3 separate regions of the Homo sapiens genome follow, and all the other regions are linked to region 1. The links come from fine-mapping of genetic effects on gene expression. A gene starts in region 1. Each other region holds a variant in brackets. All regions are shown on one strand. Distances are between the middles of the regions.

Region 1 (6,446 bases):
GAAAAGTGTGATTGGTGATGCTTGAAATCCAAGCTCTATCACTTACAAGCTGTGTATTCTTCTGCAAATTATTAGCTTTTCGGATTCTATTTCTTCCTTTGTAAAGGGTGGGTAGTATTAATATCTGCCTCATAAGATAACCCGGGGGAGGGGGGGTCAAGTTTCTAGCATAGCCCAGAAAAAAATTTTTGCTCTACAAGATTGGCAACCTTATCAGTCTTTGTATTATTCTGATTTGTAAATAGGTATCCTAGCCCTGCCAGCCTAAGGAACAAGATGCACATTTTTTAAATTTTTTTTTTTTTTTTGAGACTGAGTTTCGCTCTTGTCGCCCAGGATGGAGTGCAATGGTGCGATTTCAGCTCACTGCACCCTCCACCTCCCAGGTTCAAGCAATTCTCCTGCCTCAGCCTCCTGTGTAGCTAGGATTATAGGCGCCCACCACCACGCCCAGCTAATTTTTTTTTTATTTTTTTAGTAGAGACGGGGTTTCACCATGTTGGCCGGGCTGGTCTTGAACTCCTGACCTCAGGTGATCCACCCACCTTGGCCTCCCAAAGTGCTGGAATTACAGGCATGAGCCACTGCACCTGGCAAGATACACACTTTTAAGTAGGTAGTTCTTGTCCTAAAGGAGTTCATAGTCCAGATGAAGAAATAAGGCAACACAAACAATAGTTAATATACTACAGTCAAATACTTACAGGCAGAATTGTGGTTCAGTGGTCAGACTATAAGCATAAAAAGAATTCAGAACCTGAACCTGAATGTTACCCACAGGTAACACACCAAGCTCATTACTGAATTCTTTTGAGGTGGCTTTTGTGGGTATACATGTACATTCCCACAAGGAAGGGGAGGCCTTGGGGCTCTTCTATTTTCTGTTGCCCTCAGGAGGCCCTGCAAAGACCTTGCCTGGAATTACAAAAATGACCTATGAAATTAGCCTTTTCTACAATGCATTCTTAGAAGAGGGGCTTGGAACTCTCTCGTTAGTGGGGCTCTCACAATTTAATTGTTTGCTCAGCAACTATAAAAGGAACAGGTAAACAAGCTCATTATCAATCATCAATTTAATACTGAGAGGATGTCAGCTTGAGGCTCTGGTAGGCTGTCTTCTTCCTCTATCTCCCCTTTTCAGAAAGGCTGATGCAGACAGAGTGGATCCAAGTTCACACACAGCATGCTGGATAGAACCAGGATTGGAACATGGGCAATATGTACTGTGTTATGCAGCCATAGCAGGCACTTAAGATGAAAGATGTCCTCATTTAAGTGCAAGAGAGGAAGAGGAACTAAAATTTCTTGGACACCAACCATGTCCCAAGATCTATGCTAAGGAGTTTTTCTGGTACCATGTTAAAAAACTGCCTCAGGTCTGCTTCTTGGGAATGTGATATTTTGAGCAAGCCAAAAATTTTCTTTCTGGGGGCCTCAAGTTTTCAAAGCTCCAAAAAGGAGGGTAAGGATTCTTGCTTGCCCACCTTAAAGGGGTTGTTGAGAATCCCAGAAGAGGAACAGACTTAGAAAGGATTTGCAAATCCTTAGTCCCTTATGTATACAAAAGCAATTTCCCTTCCCCTTCTAAATGTTCCCACTTAGAAGGCAGGTCAGAAATGTGTTGTTTCTTGGCCATACAAGGGGCGTGGGAAAATCTGTTACTGCACACGGCATAGTAATAAACAAGAACAGCGCCAAGCCCTCTACCTGTCATTCCATGTCAACTCTATGAGGTCCGTATTATTATATGACCTTTAGAGTCAGAAACACTGAGAGGATACTAGTGAAACTGTGGTGACACTGCTTTAAGGAACCCAGTCTTTCCTGCAACCCCCACCACCCACCTCCGGGATCCTTCGAGGTAGGGGGCTGGGTGCATTTCCCTCCATCTCTCCCTTCCCCTGCCCTGTCCCCAACAATTCACATGTCCTTTCCTCACCCATCCCGGTCCTCAACCTCGCACCCTTGAGGAATTACCTCGCTTCCCAATTCCCATCCTTCACACCCCGCAGGTCTCCCTTTTCTACAGAGGCGATAGTTTGGTGGCAGAAAAAGGGCTTGGAACTCCAATGTCTGGATTCAAATTCTGGTTCCAGCAGTCATTCGCTTGCCATGTGACCTTGAGCAATTCAAGTCCCCTTTCTGAACGTCCCCCCCCCCCGCACCCTTAGCTGTAAAAAATTGCCCGTGCCCTAACTCACAAGCTGCTGCGAGGCGCAGAAAGATAACTTGACAGGGATGCTCGAAGCCAAACCAAAGCACTGCACCAGGGGGAGGAGGTCCTCCATCTCCCTGAGGCCTTGCCCTATGCTTCCTCAGTCTCTCCGCAGCCCCATCAGCTCCAGGCAGTCTCTGTGGCTTTCCTGACTTTTCCCTCTCTGAGGCTCCAGGACTCACCTGCAGGCAGGCTCCGCCAAGGGTTGTGGCCGGCAACCGGCGCCTCAAGGAGAGGGCGACCACCGCCGCCATCTTGGCTCCTGACGTCAGCCCCACCCCTTAACCCCGAGGTCGCTCTCCGCCGGTGTCCCGTCGAACATCGCGGCGCCCAGCCTACATCCACTGAGGACCCACTAGCCGCGTACGAGCAACCAAGTGGGAGGCGGCTTCCGGTTTCCCGGGTGGGCGGAGGGAAGGCGGGGCAAGCACAGCGAGCGTGCGCAATAGCGCAGTAGCGGCGCATGCCCATTTGGCTTCCCCCGTGACCTTCTCAGAAAGGGGAGGAGTCTGAGAGGCAGGGCGACTTTCAGGGGGTGGGGCTAAGACTTAGATGGGGCGGAGCCATCCTATCCGGGTCCCTGCCCCGATTTCAACCTCTTTATTCCTGGAATTTTTGTTTGTTTGTTTGAGATGGAGTCTCGCACTGTTTCCCGGGCTGGAGTGCAATGGCGCGATCTTGGCTCACTGCAACCTCCGCCTCCCGGGTTCACGCGATTCTCCTGCCTCAGCCTCCCGAGTAGCTGGGATTACAGGCGCACACCATCACACCCGGCTAATTTTTTGTATTTTTAGTAGAGACGGGGTTTCATCATCTTGGCCAGACTGGTCTTGAACTCCTGACCTCGTGATCCGCCCACCTTGGCCTCCCAAAGTGCTGGAATTACAGGCATGAGCCACTGCGCCCGGCCAATTTTTTTTTTTTTTTTCAGACAGGGTCTCACTCTGTTGCCCAGGCCGGTGTGCAGTCTTGGCTCACTGCAGCCTCGACTTCCCAGGCTCAAGCGATCCTCCCACCTCCAGAGTAGCTGGGACTACAGGCGTGTGAGCCACCATACCCGGGTAGTTTTTTTTTTTTTCTTTTTTTTGAGATGGAGTATCGCTCTGTCTCCCAGGCTGGAGTGCAGTGGCGCGATCTCGGCTGACTGCAACCTCCGCCTCCCGGGTTCAAGCAATTCCCTGCCTCAGCCTCCCGAGTAGCTGGGATTATAGGCGTCCGCCATCATGCCCGGCTAATTTTTTTGTGTTTTTAGTAGAGATGGGGTTTCACCATCTTGGCCAGGCTGGTCTTGAACTCCTGACCTCGTGAGCCACCCACCTCGGCCTCCCAAAGTACTGGAATTACAGGCATGAGCCACCGCGCCCGGCCACCCGGATAATTTTTTTAAAAAATTATTTGTAGAGATGGAGTCTGGCTATGTTGCCCAGGCTGGGCTCAAGCAATCATCCTGCTCCAACTTCCCAAAGTGCTGGGATTACAGGCGTGAGCCACCACACCTAGCCTCCCTAAGAATTTGTCAGTCTTATTATTCATCTCTGACGCTTACTGGCTTGAGTCAGCCCTTTCTGTCGCATACCGTGCAGCTTGCCCGAGGCTGCCCAGGTTTCTGCACTGAGAGTCCCAAACAAACTGGGCAGTTGGTGAATGAGCTGAGGTGATTTCAAGGGTGGCTGGCAAAGGTGCCATTCTTTTGTTCGTTCATTCATTCATTCATAAATACGAATGGAGTGGCTACTATGTGGCAGGCACCAAGTGCTGGGATGCTGCAGGGAATGAGCAAGCCAGGTGGTCACTGCTCATTGAATTTACTCTCTAGTGGTGGAGACGGCAAGTGAGCAGACAGCTAGACACTGTGAGCTCTGTTCTGTACGAGAGGGTGTGCCCAGAGAAGGACACCCAGTCCTTGGTGGCTTTGTTAGCCATTTAATATAAGAAACCATTTCTACTCTGTGCCAAACATTATGGTCCATTATCCCACTTAATCCCCACAGCAGTTCTGTGAAGAAAGTTTTTTGGTTTTGTTTTTTACTGAGTTTCCATTTTAGACATCTCAGCTTCTTTTTCCAGCCCCCTCCATGGATCTGCTCAGAGCTGGCCTCACTCTTGGGACTTACCTTGGGCAGGAGTGGCCTGGAGCCTCCAAGGCACCTGCCTCTTCAGTCACTCCACGCGTTTGTGTAGATTGTTAACCTTGCAGGTCCCGGGGTTTCGTAGGAGTGATTTTTTTTTCCCCTTTCTGTCTGCTTGTTTTGGACATGTGAAGGGCGCCTTTCTATAGTCTTTGGTTTCCACTCTCACAGCTGATGTGGATGCTACTGGAGACATTGAGATGGCCAGGTCAATTGGCTGGATGGGCTGTTTCTGGAGTCCTTGACTGGAACCCCGCTATACCGCCAGTGTGGCCTCATTAAAGGGGGTGTGTAGTGAGGCCTGAACCTCTAGGTCTAACCTGGAATATTCTCTTCAAGGCCATGTGACCTTGGATAAGCCCCTCCCCATCTTTGACCTATAGTTTCCTTGCCTGAACCATTAGGGTGTTGGGCCCTCTGATTTAAGATTCTGTGATTCACGTGGCTGTCTTGTGGATAACTGGTAACAATGCTGAGGTCACCTTGACTTTCACTGGTGCTGACCCAGGACTGGAACAGGGCCCCTCTGGTCTGCCCCATGGGGCCTCTTGGGTCACCCAAACTGGCTGAGATATGGGAAGACTGCCGCTCTGTCTCTAACTCCTAACTGAATTGTCGTCTGAGCTGAAGAAAGCTCTTCCTGAAAGGAATGTATTTCTAGAGAATTGGTCCTCTTAGCATTTTCAGGGTTCTTTCATCTCAAAGGCAGATGCCACCCCTAGATAAGCAACTACCCTTTCAGTTTGCCCAGGTCACCTTGGAAAAAGCAGTCTGAGGCCAGCATAAGTGAGACCTTGATTTATGGAGGGGCTGTTGGTGCCAATGGGCCCACATGCCCTGCAGTCACATCATTCCTGGGCTTCGTGGGGATTTGGGGAGCTCAAAGTTATGGAGGAATAAATTCCTGGGCGGCTGTACCTCCGCCCTGGACTTTGGGATGCCAGAAAGTCACAGCTGCAGAAGGACTTAGAAATTTTCATGGCCTGATCCTGACATATTTTCCAAAGATGTCCTCATGATAAGACCCTAGGTTTTTTTGGTTTATTTCCATTCGTCTAGAGAGTGACATATTGCTTTTCACCAGACAGTCTGCTAGACACTATGTTTATACTGAACTTTATCACTTGCAAAGGTGTTTACATAAACAGTCTCATTTAGTCCTCATAACCACACTTTTGGGTTGGAAAAGCTGCTCCTGTTTTCCAGACTCTCTCAGTCTTTGGACAGCAGGAAAACTGAGCAGCCTTAGGTGAGCGTTTTGCTTTAGGAGGTCTTTCTCCCCTAAGAGCTGGAAATCATGTCCAGAATTGAAAATTAAAACCAGCTGGGCAAAGTGGCTCATACCTGTAATCCCAGAACTTTGGGAGGCTGAAGTGGGAGGATCGATCCCTTGAGCCCAGGAGTTCGAGACCAGCCTGGGCAACATGGTGAGACCCTGTCTCTACAAAAAAATTTAAAATCCGCCAAGCATGGTGGTGCAAACCTGTAGTACCAGCTACTTGGGAGGCTGAAGTGGGAGGATTGCTTGAGTGCAGGAGGTCGAGGCTGCAGTGAGCTGTGATCACACCACTGCAACTCCAGCCTGGGCAACAGAGCAAGAACCTGTCTCAAAAAAATGAAAATAACAAAATAAAAAAGCATTATGTTGTATCAACTGTCATTTGTACAATCAATTGTAGTCTGGTGTCTTGTAATTTAGGGCAACCTGGATGATTTCTGCCAGCCAGAGGGTGAAGGAGGGTTGGATTTAGGAGGAAATATCAGATGTTGCCTGGGAGATTCATTTGCCTCTGGGAAAAACCCACAGCAACAGATTGCTGTGGTGGAGCTCTGGGGCCTTCTCATCTAAAATTTAGGATTTTTTTTTTCTTTTGAGATGGAGCCTCACTCTGTTGCCCAGTCTGGAGAGCAGTGGCACGATCTCGGCTCACTGCAAGCTCTTCCTCCCGGGTTCACGCCATTCTCCTGCCTCAGCCTCCCGAGTAGCTGGGACTACAGGCACCTGTCACCACGCACGGCTAATTTTTTGTATTTTGTTTAGTAGAGATGGGGTTTCACTGTATTAGCCAGGACAGTCTCGATCTCCTGACCTCGTGATCCAC
Region 2 (6,446 bases), 840 kb before region 1:
GCCTGACCCAGAGATGAGTGCCCGGGCTGCTGAATTCCGCCCCAGGCGCAGAGAAGAGTGCAGCCGGGTCATCAGCTCCGATGCCGAGAAGCGCCTCCGCTCAGGACCTTCGAGGCTCACTCGGGTGGACCCAGACAACTCCACCCTGGGCTCCTCTGTGCTCAGGGCCTGCTCTTGCACTACCTGGCCAGGCTCTAGGAAGACAGCGTGGGCCTCGGGGCAGCCGGGGACCTCTTCACGCTGGTACACCCGCATCTTGCGCCCTAGGGTTGGGGGCAAGGAGTGAGAGCACGGGCTGGGGTCTCCCCCAACCTCCTCCCTGCTGCTGCCCCTGGCCCTGAGCACCTGGGGAGGTTCAGGCACCATGCCCAAGGGAAGGGCCTGTGTTTCTGCTAGCATCTGGTCCCCAGAGCCCTGGGGTCCACGAGAGGGGTAAGGAGAGCACAGGGCCTGGCTGCAGTAGACAGAGGGATCAGGCTGCCCAGAATGGTGACTCACTCACTGCATAACCTTGGACAAGTCACTTGCCTTCCCTGAGCCCCACTAGTTTCCTTATCACTAATCTACCACTTGTCCTGACTTTTGGGGGAACCTTGGGACATAAAGGTTAAGGAGCTGCCCAGCCCCTCCCCTATCCCCCTGCCATGGCACCCACACCCGCCTTCCCCAGGGTGACTCACAGGCAGACTTCTTCTCCGAGCCGTGGCTGGCCCGGCGCTGTGGCTGTGTGTGTCGGGGACTCCAGGGTCCCTCCAGAGCTGGGGGCTGGGCACCAGGACAGTGTGGCCAGCTGCCAGCCCTGCTGGGCCGCATCCCCCCGCTGGTGATCTCTGTATCTGAGCCTCCTGGGGATAATGGCCATAGCAACCCTTGGAGAGGGGCAGGGGTCCCCAGGGACCAGCGGCTGCCAGGAGCCCGAAGCTCCTCTGGGGCAACAGGGAAAAGGTCCAGACACACTGGGCTCGGGGGCTTCAGGGCGGGCAGCTCTGCAAAGGACAGACTCTCCTGCTGGCACACTGCTACAGGGTGGTGGGCAGTGCCAGGTGGCCCAGTCAGGTGGGGCTGGAGGGTAGCAGGTGGCCCACAGTCCATTCCTCTTTTGCTCTGCCACCCACCTGGCCCTGCAGAAGAGAAGATATCAGACCTAGACAGAGGACAGTGGGGCTGGCCAGTAAGCCACCACCCCTGGAGGCCTGGACAAACCCCTGTGTACACTTGTGTACACACATCTCCACAAACACACTCACATGTCTAATTATATAGAAATAGCTGATACTTGCTTGGCATTGCCTGAATGATAGGCCAAGTACTTTACACATACTATCTCATTTAATCCTCACAACAACGCTGTGAGTTGATGCTCTTATTATCCCCATTTTATAGGTGAGGAAACTGAGGCACAGAGAGGTTATTTGGTAAATGGTGGAGCCAGGATTCTAACCTGGCCGTTCTAGCTTTGAAATCGATGATTTTAACCACCTTGTACTTCTCTAAAACACACTGACATGTCACCAGACATGCAAATACATACATTGTCACACAAATCCATTTCCCAACATATACATCCACACTACATTTTCTCCCAAGTATAGAATGACATGTACACTTTCATAGATACAGACATTTCAAACTCAGGCTCACACAGTCACAGACACACACATTTTTACACAACCGCATACATTCACAGACAACTCCTCACAAACACGCTGACCCGTCCGATATTTACACAGGCACCCAAGATTTCTCACCCTCCTGTTCCCTTCACATGCACACAGACACACACCAGCCCACAGGTCCTTGCTCTGATGTTTCTCCCCCCATCTCCCCGACCCTTGCCCAGAGTTGCGGCCTTCAGTGCTGAGTGGTGCCCACACCCATGCCAAGTTGGCTGGGAGGGTCATGGACTGGCAGGCGGGCCACCACCCAGATCAGGCAGGGGCCTTCTCGAAGTTCAAAGAGGTGCCCCAGCACCCCCGGCTTGGAGTGAAAGAGGGGCTGTCCCCCACCCCAGCTTCCAGCCCCTGGGTGGGCCAGGCTGGATGGGTCCTTTCTGGGCAGGAAGTTATCCCTGGGGAGCCAGCCCTCCGATCGGGGCAGGCCTGATGATCTGAGAGGCCCAAGCCCCCACAGCTCTTGCCCTGTGGCCCTCTGCCAGCCTCCCTCCTGCAGCCCCTCACCTCTCTGGGCCCAGGCCCGCTGCTGATGCTGTTTGGCTGTTCCGGCAGGGGAAGCCCTCTCTCTGCCCAGCTGGCTGGGGGAGATCCCACCCAGACAAAGAGTTTGATTCATCAAACCCTGTGGTGAGGCAAGCAGGGAGGGAGGGAGGGAGCAGGCAGCGGGCTGGGCGGGGGCCTACCCTAGCCTGGCCTCGCTGTGGGCAGGCCGGGCAGCCAGGACCCCCCAGAGGCCCCCTCAGGCCAAAGGGGCAGTGCCCAGCCTGGCAGGACCAGGAGAGCCAGGAAATGAAGACTGAGAGAGACCCAGAGAAACAGAGACCACTTAGCCAGTAACTGAGAAACCAAGACCCCAAGACGTTCAAAAACAGAAAAACCACAGATGCTGAGACATTCAGGGACCCAGAGATGGAGACAGAGACACTGACAATTTCAGGCCAACCAGATCCTCAGAGACACAGATGAAGCCCAGAAAACCCAGGGAGACAGATGGACAAACATTTCATGCCCGTGGGCTGCCAGTCTAGTGGGAGAGCCAAAAATGAAAACAGTTACAATCCAGGTTGGCAAGAGCCAAGCCAGAGGAACCATCAGAGGAGGGTGCTCGGCTCAACTCAACCTGGGTATTCCAGGAAGACTTCCTGGAGGAGGTGATAGTTAACTGCTCCACGGCTGAAATACATAGTGCACTTAGAGGGAAAGCCTTGGCCTGAACAGTGACAGTGTCAGTCACTATTGGAGACAGGGAGGGAGAAGAGGACCCAGCGAGAGATGGCTGGGTCTATGGCAGGCCCCAGTCTCTCTGCACAGCTTCTCAACTGCTTCCCCCTGCTCCCTTCACCCTGCTGTCTGGGAGGGTGGGAAGAAGGGGACTGGCTGCTCCAAAGGGGTCCTCTCTACGGTGGCCACTCTGGCTTGTACCATCAGCCTCTGTCCCTCTAGCCTGAAAAGTACCCATCTGAGCGAGTCTCCCTAAGCCTCGGTCTCCTCATCCGGCAAATAGGATAGTATTTTTATTATCATCAGTCTTTCTCTAGACAGAAGGCAGCTCAGGCCTTCACACAGATGGGGAAGATGAAGGAGTGAGGCTGAGACACACATTATATCGCAGGAGTGTGCACAAGGAGGCCCCTGCCCACAGACGGGTCTCTTTCTCTGCAGGAATCAGAAGTCCTCGACACAGAAGTCCCACTTGCTTCTGGGGGCACACATGTGCAGGCATGTACACATGCCCCCTGCCCCTTTGTATGCTGGGAGATTCTAGCACTTGGGTTCTGGAAGCTCCTGGAGGGCAGGGAGGGACCCTCTCTCCCATGGCTCACAGGGATAAGTAGGCAAAACATTGAGGCTTTGCAGCAGGAGCACCCCCAGTTAAGGCTGCAGAGGAGAAGGCTAGGTGAATGTGGGGAGAGGGGACATAGAAGGCTTCCCGGGGAGATGAAGCTGGAGGCAGGTCCCTAGCAGGGAAGAAGTCAGGAGTGTGTCAGCCTCCACCTATGCTCAAGCCAAGGGGTAATAAGAATGACCCATCTAGCTGGGATGCCAGCCCTGTGGCCCTCCAGGGGTTTGGCCCACCCAACCTCAATGCTGGGGAGCTAAGAGGGACAAGCTGTGTTCATATTGTGTGTAGCTCATCTCTGTTAGAAAAAAACAAACAAAAACCTCAGAAAGAGAACTGGCCCCAGACAGCAGGGACATTACCTTCCCAAGGCACGATCACAGGATAGAGACTCTTGTGTCTACTAGGCAAGGGCCACTCTGGAGCCCAAAAAGAATAACCTCCGCCCAAGCTTTGAGGCCCAGTGTTGACACTGACCAGCTGTGTGGCCTTAGGCAATTCACAGCCCATCCCTTGGCCTCAGTATTCCCATCTGTAAAGTGGCTCCTAAGGGACCGCACCAC[C/T]GCCCAATGCCCTCTCTAAGAAACATGTCTCATCATAAATGTCTCTGGGCCAAGAAGGATGGGCAGGGGCCGAGGAAAGTACCCTTGGTGGGTGCTGCTAATTACAGAAGACGATGGGCCCACTTAGCAAGGCTGCCAGAGAGTCCCTGGACACTACCATGATCAGAAAAAGTGTTTCTGGCCTCCTGTACCTAGCTTTTCCCTGCCCCCTCCCGGGTGCCCCTTGCCTTGCTGCCCAGGAGAGCTGGTACCCTGCCAGAGCCTCTCTGCCCTTTAAGGAATAAAGCCAGGTGGGAAGTCATGGCTGGAAAGTGGATCCAGGCCAAGTGGTTCACAGAGCCCCAGAAGGCCATAGTGGGTCAGAGCCAGGATCAGAGACCAGGCGGGCAGCACAAAGGGCTCACTCAGCGGGGAAAACTGGCGGGAAGAGAATGGGACTGCTGGCACCCAGGTGGGGCCCTACCTCAGCCAGGGAGCTCCGTCCAGCTGCCAGCACGGTCCAGGGCTCCGGGACACCCTGGGGGCTCTGGGGTTGCAGCCAAGTCCTCAGGGGGCGATGTCAGCATGTCAGCATGGCCCCAGAGCCGAGCAAGGCAAGCTCCTGGGTATTGTGTGGGGCAGGGAGGGGGAGGTGAAGGAGGAGGGAACCTTGCAGAGAGAGGCAGGCGGCTGTCTCAACGTGCCTGCTCCCCGCCCCCCTTCCCCAGAACCGGTTTGGCTAGTCTGGGGTACAAGAGGGGGGCTGGAACAATGGGAGTCCTATGCCCAAGTGAGGCTCTGAAGGACCCTACACCCAGGTCCTAAAGACGGGGGAGGCAGTGCTTCTGCTCCTAGGAGACAGGTCACCACTCTTCTGGAGCTTCCCAAACATGAGCATGCTCAGGGGACTTCTTGGAGCTGGGGAGCATCCTGGGAGCTTCACAGAGAGCCTCCCAAGCCCTGCACTCCTTAGGGACCCTGAGAACCCTGATGACCCTCTCTGATCCTATTACTACATCTATCAAATTGGAACACTCATCCCTATGATTGGGAGACAGAAATCAGTCCTGAAAGTTGATGATGTGACATGTGGCATCATCCTGGACAGCCTCTCCTCATCTAGTACAGCCACTGCTTGCAAATCCCCATCCTTTCCCACGGCCTGGAATGACCTGCCCCACCATCTCCAGTGGCCGCCTCCACCATGAAGCCTTCCCAGACTATACCAATTGAGCCCTCAATAAACCAAGCCAAATAGCCAAGTCAAACTGCCTCCAATAAGAAGGGCATGCTCTATGCCCGGCATGCAATCTTCCCAACCCTGTGGAATGGGAAGCTGCATTTTCCCCTAATTCTACCTGCCATCTGTTTGAGCTACCAGCAATTGCCAGGCACCTAATATTAATATGCAGATGTGTACACAGACTAATAGTCATGAAGCTAACTTATTGTTCACCTACTAGGTGCCAGGCACTGTCCTGAGCACTTCACATGTATTTACTCATTTAATCTCCACCATGACCCTGTCAGGTAGATACTGCTACCACTTATCAGGTGAGTACAGTTGTCCCTTGGTACCCAGAATCTGTGGGGAATTGGTTCTAGAACCCTCCCATACGAAAATCCATGGCTGCTCCAGTCCCTTATACAAAATGTCATAGTGTTTGCTATAACCTTTGTACATCCTCCAGTAAATTTTATTTTATTTTATTTTATTTATTTATTTATTTATTTATTTATTTATTTATTTATTTATTTTTAAGATGGAGTCTTGCTCTGTCACCCAGGCTGGAGCAAGTGGTGGGATCTCAGCTCACCGCAACCTTTGCCTCCCAGGTTCAAGCAATTCTTCTGCCTCAGCCTCCCCAGTAGCTGGGATTACAGGCGCATGCCACCACACCCTACTAATTTTTTTTGTTTCTAGTCAAGACAGGGTTTCACCATGTTGGCCAGGCTGGTTTTTGAACTCCTGACCTTAAGTGATCCACCCGCCTCAACCTCCCGAAGTGCTGGGATTATAGACGTGAGCCACCGCACCCAGTCTATTTTATGTATTTATTGTCAAAAAATAAAATAAAATGTCCTCAAGTGAGAGGGTCTCACTCTGTCATCCAGGCTGGAGTACAGTGGTGCAATTACAGGGCTCACTTGCAGTCTCGTCGACCTCCTGGGCTCAGGTGATTCTCCCACCTAAGCCTCCTGAGTAACTGGGACCACTGGTGTGCACCCCCACACCTGACTAATTTTTGTATTTTTTGTAGAGATGGGATCTCACCAGGTTGCCCAGCCTAGTCTCAAACTCCTGGGCTCAGGCGATCCACCAGCCTTGGCCTCCCAAAGTACTGGATTTATAGACATGAGCCACCACGCCCGGCACTCCAGTACAGTTTA
Region 3 (6,446 bases), 530 kb before region 1:
CTTCAGCCTATCCCTTAAACTCCAGACTTGGTATTTACTAAGCTCTGTGGTGTACAATACCCACCTTAATATCCATTCTTGCACAAGTTCTGTTAGGTATAAGCCAAGATGACATGAGATTTTTTTTTTTTTTTTTTTTTTTTTACCCTCTCATGCCTATGTTTGCTTTTGCTTCCACAGACCCTTCTGAGTAAGGACTATCCTCAGACTACTGGAGGCACTTAGTCACAAGCTTGCCTGAGGCTCAGAGCTGGCAATACCTGGGAGTTTATGTCAATCCCACAGCACCCAGCAACCCTGCCTGCAAAATATTTACCCATGATTGACAGGTGCAGGTGTATGAAAGCCCAGCTCCTTGACTTGAGGGGCACCTTTGTGGTGAATTAGGTTTGGCAAAAGGGAATCCAGAGGCCAACTTTGTAAAAATGCAGATAGATAAATAGAAAGAAATCTTTGCCTTGGAAGTCCAGTTGAGAAAGAGAGTGATTTACTTGAGACTCTGAAAACAGAGACTAAAATCTGTACTTTTTCATGGGAAAGAAGCCTATGGTGAAAGAGAAACAAAGAGAAAGGTAGGAAATAGGGTGGGTCTACTCCGTAGCTTTAAACCACTCTGTCATATTATAAAGCCCGGTGAGGTTTTAACTAACACAAGTGTCTGGACTCTACACATAGAGATTCTGATTTAAACGCTTCCAGGTGGGTGGAAGCCACTAGTAGTCTTAAAACACTCCCAAGTAATTTTACCATGTGGCTAGAGATGAAAAGGACAATCTATCTACTAGAATCTCAAGTAACCATTATTGAAGTGCCCCAAATGTGCAGCTACCTCATAGAAAAGGCTTAACACCACCCTTTGATGGAATTTCCCTTCCTCTCTCCATGGTCTTGTCTGCATAGCATGGAAAATAGAGAAGAGATAAAGAGGTAGATGGAGAGGTTGAACCTGTAATTTGCCTATGTAGAGCAGTTTCTCAAACTTTTCTGACCACAAGATGCAGTGAGAAATATACAATTCTTTGTGATCAGTTTTTTTTTTTTTTTTTTTTTTTTTTGAGATGGAGTCTTGCTCCGTTGCCCAGGCTGGAGTGCATTGGAATGATCTCGGCTCACTACAAGCCCCACCCTCCTGGGTTCACACCATTCTCCTGCCTTAGCGTCCTGAGTAGGTGGGACTACAGGCACCCACCACCATGCCCAGCTAATTTTTTTTTTTTTTTGTATTTTTATTAGAGACGGGGTTTCACCGTGTTAGCCAGGATGGTCTCAATCTCCTGACCTCGTGATCCACCCGCCTCGGCCTCCCAAAGTGCTGGGATTACAGGCGTGAGCCACTGCGCCTGGCCTGTGATCAGTTTTTAAAAAATCTTTTACTATGTGTAATCCACCCTACCTAGAATTTAAATAAAGCCTGCAGTAGTAAGCAGTCGACTATATTGATTTCACAACCCCTAAGTGGTTCAGAATTGCAATTAGAAAATTTTTCCTTTTGGCCAGGTGTGGTGGCTGGAGCCTGTAATCCCAGCACTTTGGGAGGATCACTTGAGGTCGGGAGTTTGAGACCAGCCTGACCAAGATGGAGGAACCCCGTCTCTACTAAAAAAAAAAAAAAAAAAAAATTAGCTGGGCGTGGTGGTGCATGCCTGTAATCACACCTACTTGGGAGGCTGAGGCAGGAGAATTGCTTGAACCCCAGGGGCTGGAGGTTGTGGTGAGCTGAGATTGCACCATTGCACTCCAGCCTGGGAAACAAGAGTGAAACTGTCTAAAAAAAAAAAAGAAAATAAATAAATTTTTACTTTTGCTCTGCCTTTTTATCAAGCAAAATCCCAAAAGAACATTTACTATAAACATCTTTCTGTGAATCCTTATTTCTGTCCCAGCCACCATGACCCAATAATCTCTAGAGCCTGTTAGTGTTCTCCAGATTGAAGCCTTCCCTCTAACTGCTCCTAAACTCTGTGATGTAGTGGAAAAGTTTTGAGGCCTCGATTCTCATCCCAGGTTTTTCACCTACAGATCATACGGCCTTAGCCTCTTGACACCATTGTCTCCTTATGGCCAAAGATGGAACTGTACTTGGGTGGTATCTGAGCACCCTGTTGGCTTTGACATTCTAGGGCTCTTCCCTTGGCACCACTCTCTTATTTAAAAGGAACAGGATGTGGACTTAGGAGGGTTATTTCTCTGCAAACTATCCTCTCTTTCTTATGACAAGCTATTTCTGAATGTGCACATTTGAGGCTAAGCAAATTCCTTCCTGGGAGGTTGAAAGACCCTTATTTCTCTCCAGAGGAGTATTATGGAGAGTCAATTGATGCTGAGGAGGTGGTAGAGACCTAGTGAACTCATCTGCAGTGGCTTTGAGCAAGGCTTTTAGAATCATAAGGTGGGTGGGGTCCTGTGTCCTACACCACAGGCCAGCTAGTTCATTTCAGGAGACTTTTTTTTCAATCTATTATTACTATCTTCTTCTAGACTGTAGTTCACTACTGGAGATTATCCACTTAGTTACACTCAGTTTGCACCTGGCCTGTATCACCAGTCAGCTCTCACTCCAGCCTCAGGTATCAGCAAGACCTCACCAAAGATTATTGTTTAATTTTGTGTGTGTGTGTTTTTGTTTGTTTC[G/A]GGTAACAACTAATGTTGGAACTATGAAAAGCTCTTCTCTACTTTTAACAAAGCTTAGTCACAAACAGTTCCCCAGTTGATGAGAAAAACTAAAACAACAGAACAATTGAAAGTCCAAATCTGCAAGCTCATCTCTGAGAACCGAATTCTACAGCCACTCCAGATTTGTACTCCAAATGGATAGTTTGATTGTAGAAATCACATCCCTTCAGTCTGCCAATGTGATAAGGGCCCAAGAGACAGTGATGCCTAGATTCATAGATAATCCCCTTTCCCCCATCCTATATATAACTGGAGTCAACAGCAGCTGGAGGAAAATGGCAAGAACTTGGAATCAAGATTAGGTTAGAATAACACTGCTGTAGACAGTTTATCAGCTCTTCAGCATACGTCCGTTTTCCTTGAAGGATGAGCCTGTAGAAACCTCTGACAATAAAGTTTATTTTACACCCATTCCCTTGCCTATGATTTTTTCATACAAATCACAATTATAAAACTTTCTTGCTCCAGCTAAAAGCAGGAAACTCAATCATGAATGTGTTCACTAAATATATACCACAGAATGATAACAACCAGTCTGATTGCATCACTTGATTCCAAAATTAAATGTTAGCCCTCAGGGGTGCAACTACATGTATCTCCAACTCTGGAAGCCACAGGCAACATATTCCTGTTTCCTTGCAGGGAAACAGATCTATAAGCAGGGCGGCAGTCTGACACATGTACATTCCTGGGAAACCCAAGGAAACAATGATAGTGACGCAGGGCAGGCAAGCCCCCAAACTGAAAGAGTTTTGCTAATGTCGCGATTGGCTTTCTATGTTATTTGAAGACTGAGATCTCCATGAGGAGTGAAGATAGGTAATGCCTAAGGCTGAGGCATGACCTCACTGGGTCACCTTAGCTGTAAAGTGAGGTCAGTTGTCACCTTGCAAACCTTTTGGTAATCCAAATCTTGGAATGATTTCTTTAAGAATTTAGACACTTCCAATACTTTTCCTGTCCTTGTGGGGAAAGCTTCTATCCACCTGGTGAAAGTGTCTATAAATACTAGCAAATCTTGTAGTCCCCTGTAAGGTGGCATCTGGTTTAAGTCTGTCTGCCAGTCTTCACCATGGTATGTTCCTTGGTGTTGTACAGGTTTAAGCAGGGATCGGGGTATGGGGTGGCTTCCTGAGTGGTAACCCTTTTTATAGTTTGGAACAGTCCCTTCCGCAAGAATATTTAGGAAACTAATTTAAATGGAAAATCCTGTCCCAAATGTGAGGAATCATGAAAATGTTTAATTATTTCCCATCTGTCAGCCTCAGGAATAGAGTTTGTTCTTTTCTAGCAACCATCCAGATGGGTCTCCCTGGAAGCCTTTTACTCAGTCCCTTTAATTTCCTTAGGGGTATATTATGGTGTCACTGACACGGATGGAGTACCTGGTAGTAGCGCAGCAGCCTGAAATACCAGGGTTTCCTTAGCTGTGGCCTTAGCTGCTCTTTCCACCAGGGAATTTCCTCTAATAATAAAAGTGTCTCCCTTCTGGTGTCCCCTGCGGTGAGTAATTGTTATTTCTTTGGGAGTTGGACAGCATCTAAAAGTTCCAAGATCTGAGTAAAGTTGTGTGGGGGATCCCTTGGCTCTTGATAGTCCCCTTTCCTTCCCTATGGCTGCATGAGCATGGAGCACCAGGAACCCATATTTAGAGTCAGTCAACACATTGACTCTTGAGGTTTTGTTCTTTTTTTTTCTTTTTTTGAAACGGAGTCTTGCTGTGTCGCCCAGGCTGGAGTGCAGTGGCATGATCTCAGCTCACTGCAATCTCAGCTCACTGCAAACTCAGGGATTCTCATGCCCCAGCCTCCCAAGTAGCTGGGATTACAGGCGACCCCCACCACACCCAGCTAATTTTTGTATTTTTAGTAGAGACGGGGTTTCGCCATGTTGGCTAGGCCGGTATAGAACTCCCAACCTCAGGTGATCCACCCACCTTGGCCTCCCAAAGTGCTGGGATTACAGGCGTGAGCCACCGTGTCCAGCTTAAGTCTTTTCATGGTTGGAAGGCCCTAATTAGAGCAGCTAATTCTGCTTTTTGAACAGAAGTCTGAGAAGGTAAACCCTTGGCCTCAAAAACTTCTTGTTGGCTAAGCTTCCTTTCTTACTCCCTCATGAATATAGCTATTTCCATCTCTAAACCACTCAACATTTGGGTTAGACAAGAGCTTGTCTTCAAGGTTGGGCCTTCTAGAGTAGAGCTCTTCCGTGGTTTCCACACAGGAGTCAATGAGTTTGGGATCTGTTTCTTGAGACGTGAGGTGCAGCAACAGAGTAGCAGGGTTTAAAAATCAGGACACTTTCAGGGTAACATCTGGGGTGTCAAGCAGAAGGGTCTGATATTTAAGTAACTGGCCCCCTGTTAGCCATTGGTGTACTTTTGCCTCTAGGACCCTCTGTACTGTACTTCATGGGGTGGCAGGGGGTGGGGGTGGGGGTGGGGTGGTATGGCATGTAATTGTTGTCCCAAGGTAAACTTACTGGTTTCGTCTAACGATAGAGTGATGGTAGTCACAGATCTCAAGCTTCTTGGTCACCTAGCTGCCACCTGGTCTAGCTGTTTAGAGAAATAAGCCACTGGTCCAAAGCAATTCCTCAGCCTTTGAGTTAGAACATTCGAAGCTGTCCCTTGTTATTCATCCACATAGAGGGTGAAAGGTTTTTCTAAGTTCGAGAGTCCTGAGGCAAGGGATGTCCCTGGCTTTTCTTTTAAGGCTAAGAATGCCTTTTGACAGGTTCCAAGCTCCGCCTCCTGGGTTCACACCATTCTTCCGCCTCAGCCTCCTGAGTAGCTGGGACTACAGGCGCCCGCCACCACAGCCAGCTAATTTTTTTGTATTTTTAGTAGAGACGGGGTTTCACCGTGTTAGCCAGGATGGTCTCTATCTCCTGACCTCCTGATCTACCCACCTCGGCCTCCCAAAGTGCTGGGATTACAGGCGTGAGCCACCGCACCCGGCCAACAAGTTTTTTTTTTTAAATGAACAGAGCATCAGTGAATGATAGTGCAAGTTTAAGACACCTAATAGACAAGTTAAAGGAGTCCTCCAGGCAGAAGGAAACTGACACCAGATGAAAATGTGGATGAAAAAAAAAAAGACACTAGAAATGACATCTACATAGGCAAATATATAATTTTAACATCTGACTGTTTAGCTGGGCACGATGGCTCACGCCTGGAATCCCGGCACTTTGGGAGGCCAAGGAAGGCGGATCACTTGAGGTCAGGAGTTCGAGACCAGCCTGGCCAATATGGTGAACCTTCCTCTCTACGAAAAATTCAAAAATTAGTCATATATGGTGGCGCAAGCCTGTAATCTCTGCTACTCAGGAGTCTGAGTCAGGAGAATCGCTCGAACCCGGAAAGCAGAGGTTGCAGTGAGCCAAGACTGTGCCACTGCACTCCAGCCTGTCCGATAGAGTAAGACTCGTCTTAAAAACACCACCACCAGCAACAAAAAAGCAAAAACAAACAAACAAACAAACAAACAAACAAACAAAAACACATCTGACTCTTGAAACAAAAGTAATAGAGATGGATTGTAAGGTTTATAACAGGTGTAAAGTAAAATGCATGACAATAGCATAAAGGCAGGGGGAGGAGTCATGTGAAGAGGTATGATGCCACTTGAAGGCAGACTGTGATGGGTTAATTTTTGTGGAAAGCAAGGCAGAATTTTTGAAGTTTGTTTCTTCAAATACTTTCTGTTTCCCGTACATACAAGCTAGTTTGTTCTGCAGAGATCTCATTTTCTAGGAGGCTCGGAGGGGGA

What was found. PIP is the estimated chance that this variant, and not a neighbour inherited with it, causes the effect.
Region 2: its variant is fine-mapped to the expression of SDHB in whole blood (INTERVAL, PIP above 0.99).
Region 3: its variant is fine-mapped to the expression of SDHB in whole blood (TOPMed, PIP above 0.99).

What each region holds. Positions count from the first base shown.
Region 1 is chr1:17,051,551-17,057,996 of GRCh38, forward strand. It overlaps SDHB (succinate dehydrogenase complex iron sulfur subunit B), which reads right to left and starts at 2,482. Exons shown (of 8, transcript NM_003000.3): 1 at 2,398-2,482. The coding sequence starts at 2,469. RefSeq lists enhancers at 2,362-2,421, 2,972-3,021.
Region 2 is chr1:16,207,963-16,214,408 of GRCh38, forward strand. ARHGEF19 (Rho guanine nucleotide exchange factor 19) reads right to left here and starts at 4,690. Exons shown (of 16, transcript NM_153213.5): 1 at 4,540-4,690; 2 at 681-1,121; 3 at 1-263. The coding sequence starts at 1,092. RefSeq lists enhancers at 1-303, 304-1,276, 4,494-5,192. The variant C/T (reference allele first, on the strand shown) is at 4,077.
Region 3 is chr1:16,525,713-16,532,158 of GRCh38, forward strand. No RefSeq gene overlaps it. Among named protein-coding and RNA genes, the nearest start is that of TRE-TTC4-1, 6.4 kb to the right of the region's middle. The variant G/A (reference allele first, on the strand shown) is at 2,632.